Regions from separate parts of the Homo sapiens genome. Here all the other regions are linked to region 3. Evidence: fine-mapped expression QTL. A gene starts in region 3. Each other region holds a variant in brackets. All regions are shown on one strand. Distances are between the middles of the regions.

Region 1 (2,685 bases), 190 kb after region 3:
GGGTCAGGTCCACCTTGTTAAGGGGGATGGACACCTCCCCAATGGGGTCGTTGCGGCTGAAGCGGTCATAGTCCAGGACTTGGAGGTAGAGGATCCTCTGCACCACCTTCTCATAGGGAAAACCTGGGGGTATAGATGAGTGTGAGTGAAGAGGGGGACAGAGGGGCTGCACGGGGCCCGGGAGGCAAGGAAGGCCCTGGGAAGAGGAGGCAGGCCCTGTGCCCTCCCGCTGCCACCCCACCGGGCCAGCAGGCACACCGGATTGCAATTAGACCTTACTGAAGTGCTAGCAAGAACTGTCACCGTCTCATGGGATTCCCTCAACAATTCTCCAAGGTGAATGGCATCTCGTCCATCTTACAGATGAGGCTCAGACGGCTTAAAGTACTTGCCCAGACTCCCAGCTAGTAAAGAGTAGAACTGCGATCATCCATTCACCCATGCACCTTGTGTCCATCTCAGTGGCTGAGCAGCCTCTGCCAATCGTCCCGAGGCGGGTCTGGGCAAGTGGCTCTGTCTAGGTGGCCACAGCTGCCAGTACGCAGGCCCCAGGACTCAGGGCAGAGGGACATGGGGAAGCATCGGTGGGAGGGAAAAGGCAAAGGCACAGAAGCAGGAGGTGACAAGTGTCCTGTGACTCCACACCCCTCTCCTCCTGCCTGTGCTTCCATCCTTCCTACCGCAGCGTCCCCTTCTCTACTGCCACCTCCCTCATCCGAGCCGCTGGCACCTCTTGCCTAGGCAGCTGCAAGTGTCTCCAAACCGCCCTCCCCGCATCCACGCTTTCTCCTACCGTCCATTCTCAATGCGGCAGCCAGAGAGACCTTTTAAAAATAGAAATTCCATCATGATATGCTCCTGCTTAAAGCCTTTCAATGGCTCCCAGTGCACTTAGAATAAAAGCCGGGCACCCTACCTTGGCTTCAAGTCCTTCCACAATTTGGCCCGGCTGTCCTCTCCCTGCTTGGCTTGTGACCTCTCTTCACTCAATGACTGGGCTCCAGCCACATCGGCCTCCTTCCTGGCCCTTCAACACCCCGACTCCTCCCGCCTCAGGGCCGGGCGCACACTGGCCCCATCATGACCCCCCTCCTGGCTACTCTCATCCTTCAGGTCTCAGCATTCTTTCCTGGCACCCCAGAGAGTGTCGGATCCCATTATCCGCTCTAGCACCTTTTTTTCCGCAAAACATAACACACGCGGTAATAGATTTCTCTGTCTCTTTCCCTGATTTTTGTCTGGCTCTCCCGGAAGGCAAGGATTCCCACAAAGGCCTCTCTGTTACCAACCACTGGCTCTCGGTGCCTAACACCGCTTCTGGCACATAGTAGGCACTCAATACATATTTGTTAAGTGAATGCATAATTGAACAGATGAATCAATGCCAATGAAATGGCCTGATGGAGCAGCAGGACTGTGCTGAGGTGAGGTGTCCGCTAAGGTCAGAGGGAGAGGAGCAGAAGGGGCTTGGATG[G/A]GATGCAGAAGGGAAGAGGGGGCCAGGTGAAGGTCTGAAGCCAGGAGTCATTAGCTCTTTGGAGGCTTAGTCAGAGGTGGGACTGGCCCAGGAGGTGCCGGGGGGCACAGGCCAGCCTGGAGGCCTGAGGTGAGGAGATTCTGAAACCAGGTATGAGCAGGAAGGAGGACGCCTGGAACCTCAGCCTGGCTGGTGCAGAAGATGAAGGGAAGGAGGAGCTCTAGAAGATTCCAGCACCTTCCCCCAGAGACTCTGGAAGCACCGAGGAGCTCTGACAGGAGCAGGTGAGCTGGAAGAGGAGACTCTGAATTTGTTCAGGGTCCCTTTCCTCATATTGTGGGAAGCTGTGTCTTGCTTATTTCAGAGCCTCCCAGGGACCTTGCCCAGGGGACCCTTGGCATCAATTTAGGTAAAATGCATGAGGACAAGTGTTCTGGGAATATTGGAAGCTCCAAGAGGTCACTGCACCCCAGTCAGCTCTCATCAACACCAGAGGAGGCAGGCTCCTAGCTGGCAAACTCCTACTCATCCATCAGAACCCATTTTGAATGGCCCCTCTTCTGGGAAATGTTCTTCAGCACCACCAAAGGGAGCTCATACTGGCTTCCTGCAGCTCCTGTCATGCTGTGTGTGGCTGAGTTATCTACACATCTGGGTCTCCATTAGGCCAGAAATGCCCTGAGGGCCATAATGGTGCCTCATTCTTTTCTACATCCCCAGTACGTAGAAGAGTGCCCAGCTCATGGCTGTTGCTGGGTACATGCTCGTGGAAGAGACCGGAGGATTGGAGTTCTGCTCAAAAACTTCGCCCTGCCAGCTGCCTACATATACCTCCAGACAGCTGAACCTCTTGCTGGTTGAGCTATCTCTAAACGGGCCCTCATGGTGCCTGCAAAGGAGGGCGTCCAGAAACACATGGACACTCACTGCTCACCCTCAGTGCCATTTAGTGGGTGACCTGGCTGTCATCTTGCAGAAGAGGTGGGGTGCTAAGTGGCTGGGAAGGCAGGTGGGGAAAGGTCCCTGGGGTACACGGTGAAGATTCTGGAAGGCTAGGGCTTGGGGCAGCTGGGGTAGGGATTTACTCTCCCTGGTTGAACCGGGGGCCATTGGCAAAGGGTTACGGTTTGTCTAAGCGGGGTCCTGGCACCCAAAGGCCCTGGGATAGAAATCACTCCTTAATCACACGCCCAGCTTCCTGGTTACCTTGA
Region 2 (2,685 bases), 42 kb after region 3:
GTAAAGACAGGATTTCACCATGTTGGCTAGGCTGGTCTCAAACTCCTGAGCTTGGGTGATCCACCTGTCTCAGCCTCCCAAAGTACTGGGATTACAGGTACGAGCCACTGCCACTGGCCCTGGAAACTCCTATAATTCTGATATGACTTAATGTACATTATCGGTAATAATTATAACTGTTATGTTAAATTATTATGTGCCACAGAGGTAACAAATTTCCTTGTCAGTTTTGTCTTTGACTATAGCTGCCCTAAAACATTTTGTCATCCATGGACAATTGTTGTTTTGCTTTGGTCCTCTTTAGAAGGTGGTTTTATAATCAGCTATAAAACTCTAGGCCAGGCGTGGTGACTCACACCTGTAATTCCAGCACTTTGGGAGGCCAAGGTGGGCAGATCATGATGTCAGGAGATTGAGAACCATCCTGGCCAACAAGGTGAAACCCTGTCTCTACTAAAAATACAAAAATTAGCTGGGCGTGGTGGCAGGTGCCTGTAATCCCAGCTATTCAGCTACTCAGGAGGCTGAGGCAGGAGAATTGCTTGAACCTGGGAGGCGGAGGCTGCAGTGAGCTGAGATCGCGCCACTGAACTTCAGCCTGGTGTCAGAGCTAGACTCCATCTCAAAAACAAACAAACAAACAAACAAACTCTAATAGGTGCCCCTGAATAAGGTTTCTGATAACTTTAGAGACTGTCACATCAGAATAGAGGAAAAACTTTCACGACTCATGGAGAACTGAAATGTTCATGAAAAATGAAGCAGAACAGGAATTAATTGCATGGACTAAACTAATAGGTGTCTGAAGTGATCTTTTTAACTTTACACTTAAAATGTTGCTGATCCTGTGTTTTGTTTTTCAGAGTCAAGAAAACTTTTAAGCTATTTATAGCTTTAACAATTGAGTATACTCCTATGAACAAAATTTGCAGCATATTTGTTTTTCTCTGATTTCTCCAGAATTTGGAGATTATTTGTGAGTATTCTTTTTTTTTTTTTTTTTTTTTTGAGATGGAGTTTCACTCTTTTTGCCCAGGCTGGAGTGCAGTGGTGTGATCTCAGCTCACCACAACCTCTGACTCGCAGGTTCAAACCATTCTCCTGCCTCAGCCTCCCAAGTAGCTGGGACTACAGGCATG[C/T]GCCACCATGCCTGGCTAATTTTTGTATTTTTAGTAGAGATGGTGTTTCACTATGTTGGCCAGGCTGGTCTCAAACTCCTGACCTCAGGCGATCCACCCACCTCAGCCTCCCAAAGTGCTGGGATTACAGGCATTAGCCACTCCACCCAGCTGTGAGTATTCTTAACTTATGACAATACTGTTATTTGCATAAGTGCAATAAGAATCTGTTTTCGTTTGTAACAGGACACAATTGGAGAAACTGGTTATTTTACCAAGGCTTTTACTGGAATGGTGTGCTTTCCTTTAAGCAATCAAATTTGACTTTATGGAGCCAATAAAAGCCCCTTGGAAAAACTGGCCCCATACCTTTGTCCACACAGCCGCTGTCCAAGGTTTCTGACCTGTGGCAAGTAAAGCACGTCACTTTCTGACAGGCCCAGGAGTCCCAAGTTTATCTTGGAACCTCAAGAGGAGAGGATCATGCAATTCATAGGTATTTGATGGCACAAATCCACGGCTGGGCTCGGCTTTTAAAAAGTCTTATCTGAGATTCTTTCTATGGAACAAAGTTTCATCAAAGCCAATTTAAAAGCCTATGTAAAAAATAATTATTCGGCCAGATGCGGTAGCTCATGCCTATAATCCTAGCACTTTGAGAGGCCAAGGCAGGCGGATCACCTGAGGTCAGGAATTCAACACCAGCCTGGCCAACATGGTGAAACCCCATCCCTACTAAAAATACAAAATGTAGCCAGGTGTGATGGTGCATGCCTGTAATTCCAGCTACTCAGGAGGCTGAGGTGGGATAATCACTTGAACCCAGGAGGTGGAGGTTGCAGTGAACTGAGATCACGCCACTGCACTCCAGCCTGGATGACAGAGCAAGACTCTGTCTCAAAAAAAAAAATAATGGAAAACTGGAAAGAGAAAAATTGTTTCAAAAACTATAGCACACCTGTTGTTAGATTCTTGTCTTGCCTAATGTTTTTCAATTTTATTATTTTCTACAGTTTGGACCGAATTCTAATTTTTCTTGACTACAAGTCTTCAAAATAATGTTTTCATTTTTTTCTTCTTTTTTCCATTTTTTTCCAATTTGGAGTCACTGAAAACTAAGCTGTGCTTTCATAAAGCCCTGCAAACTGAATCTAGACAACTTCAGAAGAAAAATAACAGCAACCTATTTACATACATAAGCCACTTTCATACCTGCCTACCGATGTATGGACTTCAGAGTAATGTGGCTTATAGCAATTTTCCAGGATTGTTCTTTTGTTTGTTGTTGTTCTCCCTTCCTCCCCCTATTTTGTCTTTATGGGACATGACACTTCACAACCTTCTAAAAATGAGTTTTCCTAATAACTCAGGACCTACTCGTCTAGAAATAAACCATCCTAGCCATGAGAGATAAGATAAAACATGAGACAAGAGACTCATTTTTTTCTAAAATGCTTTCTCTAAAAGATTTTTAAAAAGAAAGGGGAGGAAATGTGAAAGGAAAATATCTTGGGCCCCCAAATCACTCAGCTAAAGGCAAAAGTCAAGCTGGGAACTGCTTGGGGCA
Region 3 (2,651 bases):
TCATGCCTCTTGCCCCTCCAATTTTACTCTATTACAGTTACAGTGGCAGGCTCTAATTGAGAATGCCGGAGAAAGTGTTCACTTCTTCCAGTCTTCATCTAAAGTCTCACAAAACTTTTATCTGACAGACCAAGTCAAATGAAGAAGTCCCAGAGCTTTATATGAAAACACTGTTTTGTCCACACCCCCTGCCCTCCTGGCAGTCTACCAATACCTCCATCCACACTCAGCTACCTCCAACTCTGAACAACAGTTTTGTTTTGGAATCATGATTAGGGTGTATATAAACATGCAAGCTTGGGGTCTGCATATTCAGCTGAGAATGTGGGTTAAGATGACTCTTCCCGGGTTCTGAACATCGGTGTCCTTAACAATCCAAGCGCATCGTCAACAAGGCAAACCCAGCACTGGGCCAGGCAAACCAAACCCTCTTCTCCAGCAGGGCCCTCATGTAAACAACAGCCCCAGGCAAAGGGGTTAGCCTGAAGAGGGCTCCTCTCCCTCTGTGGGATAATGCGGGCATTCCTCACATCCCTCCACCTCCTGGGCCCCCCAGACTTCCCCACAGGAAAATCTTGACCCCAAAGTCGTCATTACCACCTCCCCTTTTCCTGGCCACAGAAAGCCAATCTCCGGGCCCAAACGACACCGCACAACCAACTCACACTCCTCTGTCTCACTGGGCCCGCCCTGTTCTCGAGGCCGAATGACCTCCCCAGGACGAAAGGGGACCCTCGAGAGCGGCTTCCAACCCCCAAAAAGCGCGTACAGGGACGACTCTTTCGAGGTCGCGGTGCTGGGGGAGGTTCCTCGGCCGCCAGCGCCTTCCATTCGCCGGGCCCACTCCTGCCCGGCCGCCCCCGGGGCGGCGGGCCTCCCTAGGCCGCGGCTCCCCCCAACTCCCTCACTCGCCGGGGTCTCCGGCCCCGGCAGCCTCACCGGTCACGCAGCCGTTCACGGCGGTGGGCTTCTGGGCCGTTACCACGTAGTTGTACGACATGTCGAGGCTTGGAGCGGCCCGTCGGGACTCGAGCGCGACACTAGAAAGAGGGACACAAGCGAAAAGACAGGTGGCCCCCAACAGCGCGCAGCGAACTCCACTGCCGCTGCCTCCGCCCCAGAGACACGTTGCAGGCCAGAGCGGCCGGGGCGCGGGGCATCACGGGACGGCCTCACCTGGCCTCTTGGAGGACTCCCGAAGCCCGAGGCCGCCAACCGAAGGAGGCCCCGCCCCCGGAGGCACCGCCTCGCCTCTTTCCGCCAGCGCCCGCAGGACCCGGATGAGAGCGCACGCTTCGGGGTCTCCGGGAAGTCGCGGCGCCTTCGGATGTGGCGGATGCGGCCGTGAGCCGGCGGGGGAGGTGCGCCAGTGTCCTCCGAGCTCGCCCGCAGACTCCCCACCCCGTTCCGCGCCCTTTGCCCTTCCCCGCATCCAGTCCTCCTTCCGTTGCTCCAGGAGCCCTCGGGCTGTTCCTCCTTTGGGAACGGGAAGGACTGCGGAGGCATAGAGAGGGAAGGGAGACCGCGATTCGTGCATATCCCAGACTAGAACCTTGCCTGCTTTCCTTTCACTGTCTCAGTTCCTCCAGATCCAGCTGGTGCCCTCGCCTGACGTTTGAACGACCACCTGCTCACCTCCTCCCTTTTGCGCGTTGATTCTTCAGACTTCAAAGGGCCCACCGGTCTGCTTGCCCAACGTTATTAGTGCCCCTATTGCTCTACAAATTCGAACCTCAAACACAAAACCAGTATTTCTCCGTAGGGAACCTTAATGAGCCAGGAGAGCCGTCAGCCCTGCAGCCTCCAGGGTACCCCACATCAAACAGGCTCCCCGGGAACAAGAGGAATACCACGTGGCTTGGCACACTCGCAGAATGCCAGAGAGGAGCCAACCCCCATTTTACAGATGAGGAAGCTGAGGCTTAGGGAGGAATTGGTTTACCTAAGACCCTCCCCACAACCCCAAGTAGGCTGAGGCAGAGCTATGTTGATTCTTCCTATTGTGCACCCACACAGAGGCCAACACGCTGCTGAACCAGGCTGAACTGAGGAAAAGCTAGAAAGTCATCGTGGTTTACATCTTGCCTTTCCCATAGCAGAGACTCTGCCTGACTTTGGAGGCACTGAATTATCAGTAGTAAAAACACACTCTGTAGAAAAACTAGACATTGGTTTAGATTCTGGCTGTTACCTGTATTACCTTGGACAAGTCCCTAGAGCTCTCTGAGTCTGTTTCCCAGAAGTAAAATGGGTCACAAACCTGGCTAGCTCCCCCCATTCCCTTCCCTTTTGGTGCCAAGGCCAGTGAGGGCAAGCGTGTGACGAGCTTTGTTAACTTTTTCGCTGCATGTGATGCCCGTGTAAAAGATAGTTATTCTGAGGATCACTGTCCTTTAGTGATGAAGTGGGTGCTGTTCCTGGACATAAAGGCAGACCTGTGCTTGACATGGATTGATCTGTCTTCTGGCAGTGAAGTGCAGGCATGAACCTTGGTCAGCCCCACACTCTTCTCCATCCGTAGCCCATGTACTAGAGTTTGGACTTGGACCGAAGTCTGGGGCAGCTCCCTAATTACTAGGGTGCTGAAGGCGTGATTGTGCCAGTCGACTGCGAGTTCCTTCCGCAGCTTGTATCGTTACCCACTCCTGCAG
Region 4 (2,685 bases), 85 kb after region 3:
CTGACATTGTCAAGTCACTTGGTTAAACTTGTTCCTTCTCTCCAGTTTAACAGTCTAAGCCTGTTTATTGTGGAATCCAATAGAAGAACAAGATCACATGGCTTTGGGGGGGTCTTGGAGATAGAAAGATGCCACTGGCAGCAAGTGTGGAGGAAAGAGTGCTCCTTAAACTAGAATATGATAGTTAATCCCAGCTCCTGAGTAAAGCCTAAGGTGGAATCAATTATGTTGACAACCACCTAGATTTCTCTTACAGAACAGTGCCAGTGCTGTCTTGTTCTTCAGGTCTCAAACACATGGCAACTGGCTCTTTCCTAGAGTTCTCTCAAACTGAAGAACAAAAAGGTATAAGGCAAGTGTCATCTGACAGTTAACCACTTTCCCAGCTACTACTGTTGTCACATCTGCAAAGGTTGTTTTGTATCTATGGCTACAAGTCCCAAAAGACGCAACATTTCTATGCAGAGGAAGTCCACCAGCTTTACTTAGTGAATTAACAGAGCCCAGGTCCATCAGCATGACAGAGCAGAAAAACAGCACTCAGTTACACAATCTTTTCAGCAAAAAAAAGTAACATGAAAAGTAGCTGAGTAGAAGTAGAACGTTACCCCCAATACAGTTGTAAAATTACATACCTAAGGAAAGTCAGGGGTGAATTACAGAAAGACTCCAAAACAGAGGGGACTTGAAAATACAACTTGTCAAGGAAGAAGAGTGTGTCCTTTCTAACATGGAACAACAAGAGTTCACACCAAATCTATCTAGGCTGTCAATCTAGTTAAAAGAACAGCTGTTCCTATGCAAGAGCAAAGTGGTCCTATTTCTACCTGGAGGATACACCCAATCAATACAAGGCACTATTTTGAGAGCTGGACCTAAGCAGTGACAGAACATCAGTGATGAAACTTTGCTGTTCCTCCCACTGTAGCAAAAGAAAATAAGGGTGGTTGGCTGTCTCAGGGAAGGTCTTGCAGGGTGGCTGCACTTTATGAGGTCAGGAAAATCCAAGGTCTAGTCCTCAGGTTTCTCAGGTTCAGAAACTTGCTTCAACTGGGGTGACTAGGCCCTAGGAGACTGATTCATGCTAACCAAACTCACAAGAGACTGATTCATAAACCATAACACCAATTTATTAATTTACAATGAGAAATGTAATTGCCAAGCAGACCAGAATACTTGTGTCGGCTGGTCAGCGAATTCTCTTCCTAGTAGGAGACCCTAATTGGGAAACCAAATTAGCATCAGAAAGTGGCTTAGTGAGTACAGTCAGAATAAAGAGAGTAAGATGGACATTGGGGAAACTGTCCTCAAACTAAGGTAGTTCTGAGGTAACTTTCTTTTTTCTTTTTTTTTTTTGAGACAGAGTCTCACTCTGTCACCCAGGCTGGAAGGCAGTGGTGCAATCTCAGGTCACTGCAACCTCCACCTCCTGGATTCAAGAGATTCACCTGCCTCAGACTCCC[G/A]AGTAGCTGAGATTATAAGCATGTGCCACCATAACTGGTTAAGTTTTGTATTTTTAGTAAAGACAGGGTTTTGCCATGTTGCCCAGGCTGGTCTCGAACTCCTGACCTCAGGTATCTGCCCGCCTCAGCCTTCCAAAGCACTGGGATTACAGGTGTGAGCCACCATGCCCAGCCCCTAACTTTTTTATTTTCCCTCCAAGATGGAGTCTTGCTCTGTTGCCCAGGCTGGAGTGCAGTGGTCTGATCTCAGCTCACAGCAACCTCCGTCTCCCGGGGTCAAGCAATTCTCCTGCCTCAGTCTCCCGTGTAGCTGGGATTACAGGCATGTGTCACCCACACCCGGCTAATTTTTGTATTCTTAGTAGAGATGGGGTTTCACCATGTTGGCCAGGCTGGTCTCAAACTCTTGACCTCGTGATCCACCCACCTCGGCCTCTCAAAGTGCTGGGATTATAGGCGTGAGCCACCGCGCCCGGCCTGTAACTTTCTTTACTAATGGGATATAACTGCCAAGCAGACTAAAACATTTGGTAATCAAAAGAGCACCCTCTCCCCTGGACAATGCTGGAGAAATATTGTTCAAGTCTTATTCTCCAACACTCCTCTTGGTTGATTCCTTACAGTATCCTTCCAATCAACGTTTATGAAAAGATTATAGGCACCTTTTAGTTACATTTTAGGGTGGCTGCTTCTTGATAATTTATAGAGAGGCATGTCTTAAAAATTAAGCCCATTCACCTAATGCCAAGTTTTAGACAGAAACACAGAATTTAGAGGTGATGGAACTTTAAACATCATGTCACTAGTCCAGATGGGGAAACAGGCCCTAAGTAGTAAAGTGACTTGGCCAAGGTCACACGAGTCAGTGGCAGAACCAAACTACAACCTGAACCTACTTGACTCCCAGCACAATGCTCTTTCTTCTATATAGACCTATTCTGAGGACTACTTGTCGACCATGACACCACTCACAACCACCATCACCCTCCCCCAAACTCACCCACACTGTAGGCTAAGCCTACACCATAGAAAACAAACCCACAAACACCCCCCCCTCATACAGATGGTCTCCACGTACCCCCTCTTGGGACTCGGACACACTCACGTTTCCGAGCCTGTGCCTCAAACTGTGACAGGTTCTGCCGGGTGGCCGGCCTCACGTCCACTTTTTCTCCATTAAGAACTTTCCCTGGTAGGAGTTCCAACAATTTGTGGACAGAGT

What was found. PIP is the estimated chance that this variant, and not a neighbour inherited with it, causes the effect.
Region 1: its variant is the best candidate, but not a certain one, in a credible set for the expression of TKFC in whole blood (TOPMed, PIP 0.88).
Region 2: its variant is the best candidate, but not a certain one, in a credible set for the expression of TKFC in whole blood (TOPMed, PIP 0.81).
Region 4: its variant is the best candidate, but not a certain one, in a credible set for the expression of TKFC in whole blood (INTERVAL, PIP 0.67).

The regions. Positions count from the first base shown.
Region 1 is chr11:61,524,410-61,527,094 of GRCh38, forward strand. It overlaps SYT7 (synaptotagmin 7), which reads right to left. Exons shown (of 13, transcript NM_001365809.2): 10 at 1-123. Among named protein-coding and RNA genes, the nearest start is that of LRRC10B, 17 kb to the left of the region's middle. The variant G/A (reference allele first, on the strand shown) is at 1,475.
Region 2 is chr11:61,374,332-61,377,016 of GRCh38, forward strand. It overlaps a transcript of TMEM138 not described here. Among named protein-coding and RNA genes, the nearest start is that of TMEM138, 13 kb to the left of the region's middle. The variant C/T (reference allele first, on the strand shown) is at 1,140.
Region 3 is chr11:61,331,969-61,334,619 of GRCh38, forward strand. TKFC (triokinase and FMN cyclase) reads left to right here and starts at 1,260. Exons shown (of 18, transcript NM_015533.4): 1 at 1,260-1,361. DDB1 (damage specific DNA binding protein 1) reads right to left here and starts at 1,137. Exons shown (of 27, transcript NM_001923.5): 1 at 940-1,137. The coding sequence starts at 1,000. RefSeq lists enhancers at 699-1,221, 1,222-1,744 and a silencer at 1,140-1,399.
Region 4 is chr11:61,417,381-61,420,065 of GRCh38, forward strand. CPSF7 (cleavage and polyadenylation specific factor 7) reads right to left here. Exons shown (of 10, transcript NM_001142565.3): 5 at 2,569-2,685. Among named protein-coding and RNA genes, the nearest start is that of CPSF7, 11 kb to the right of the region's middle. The variant G/A (reference allele first, on the strand shown) is at 1,464.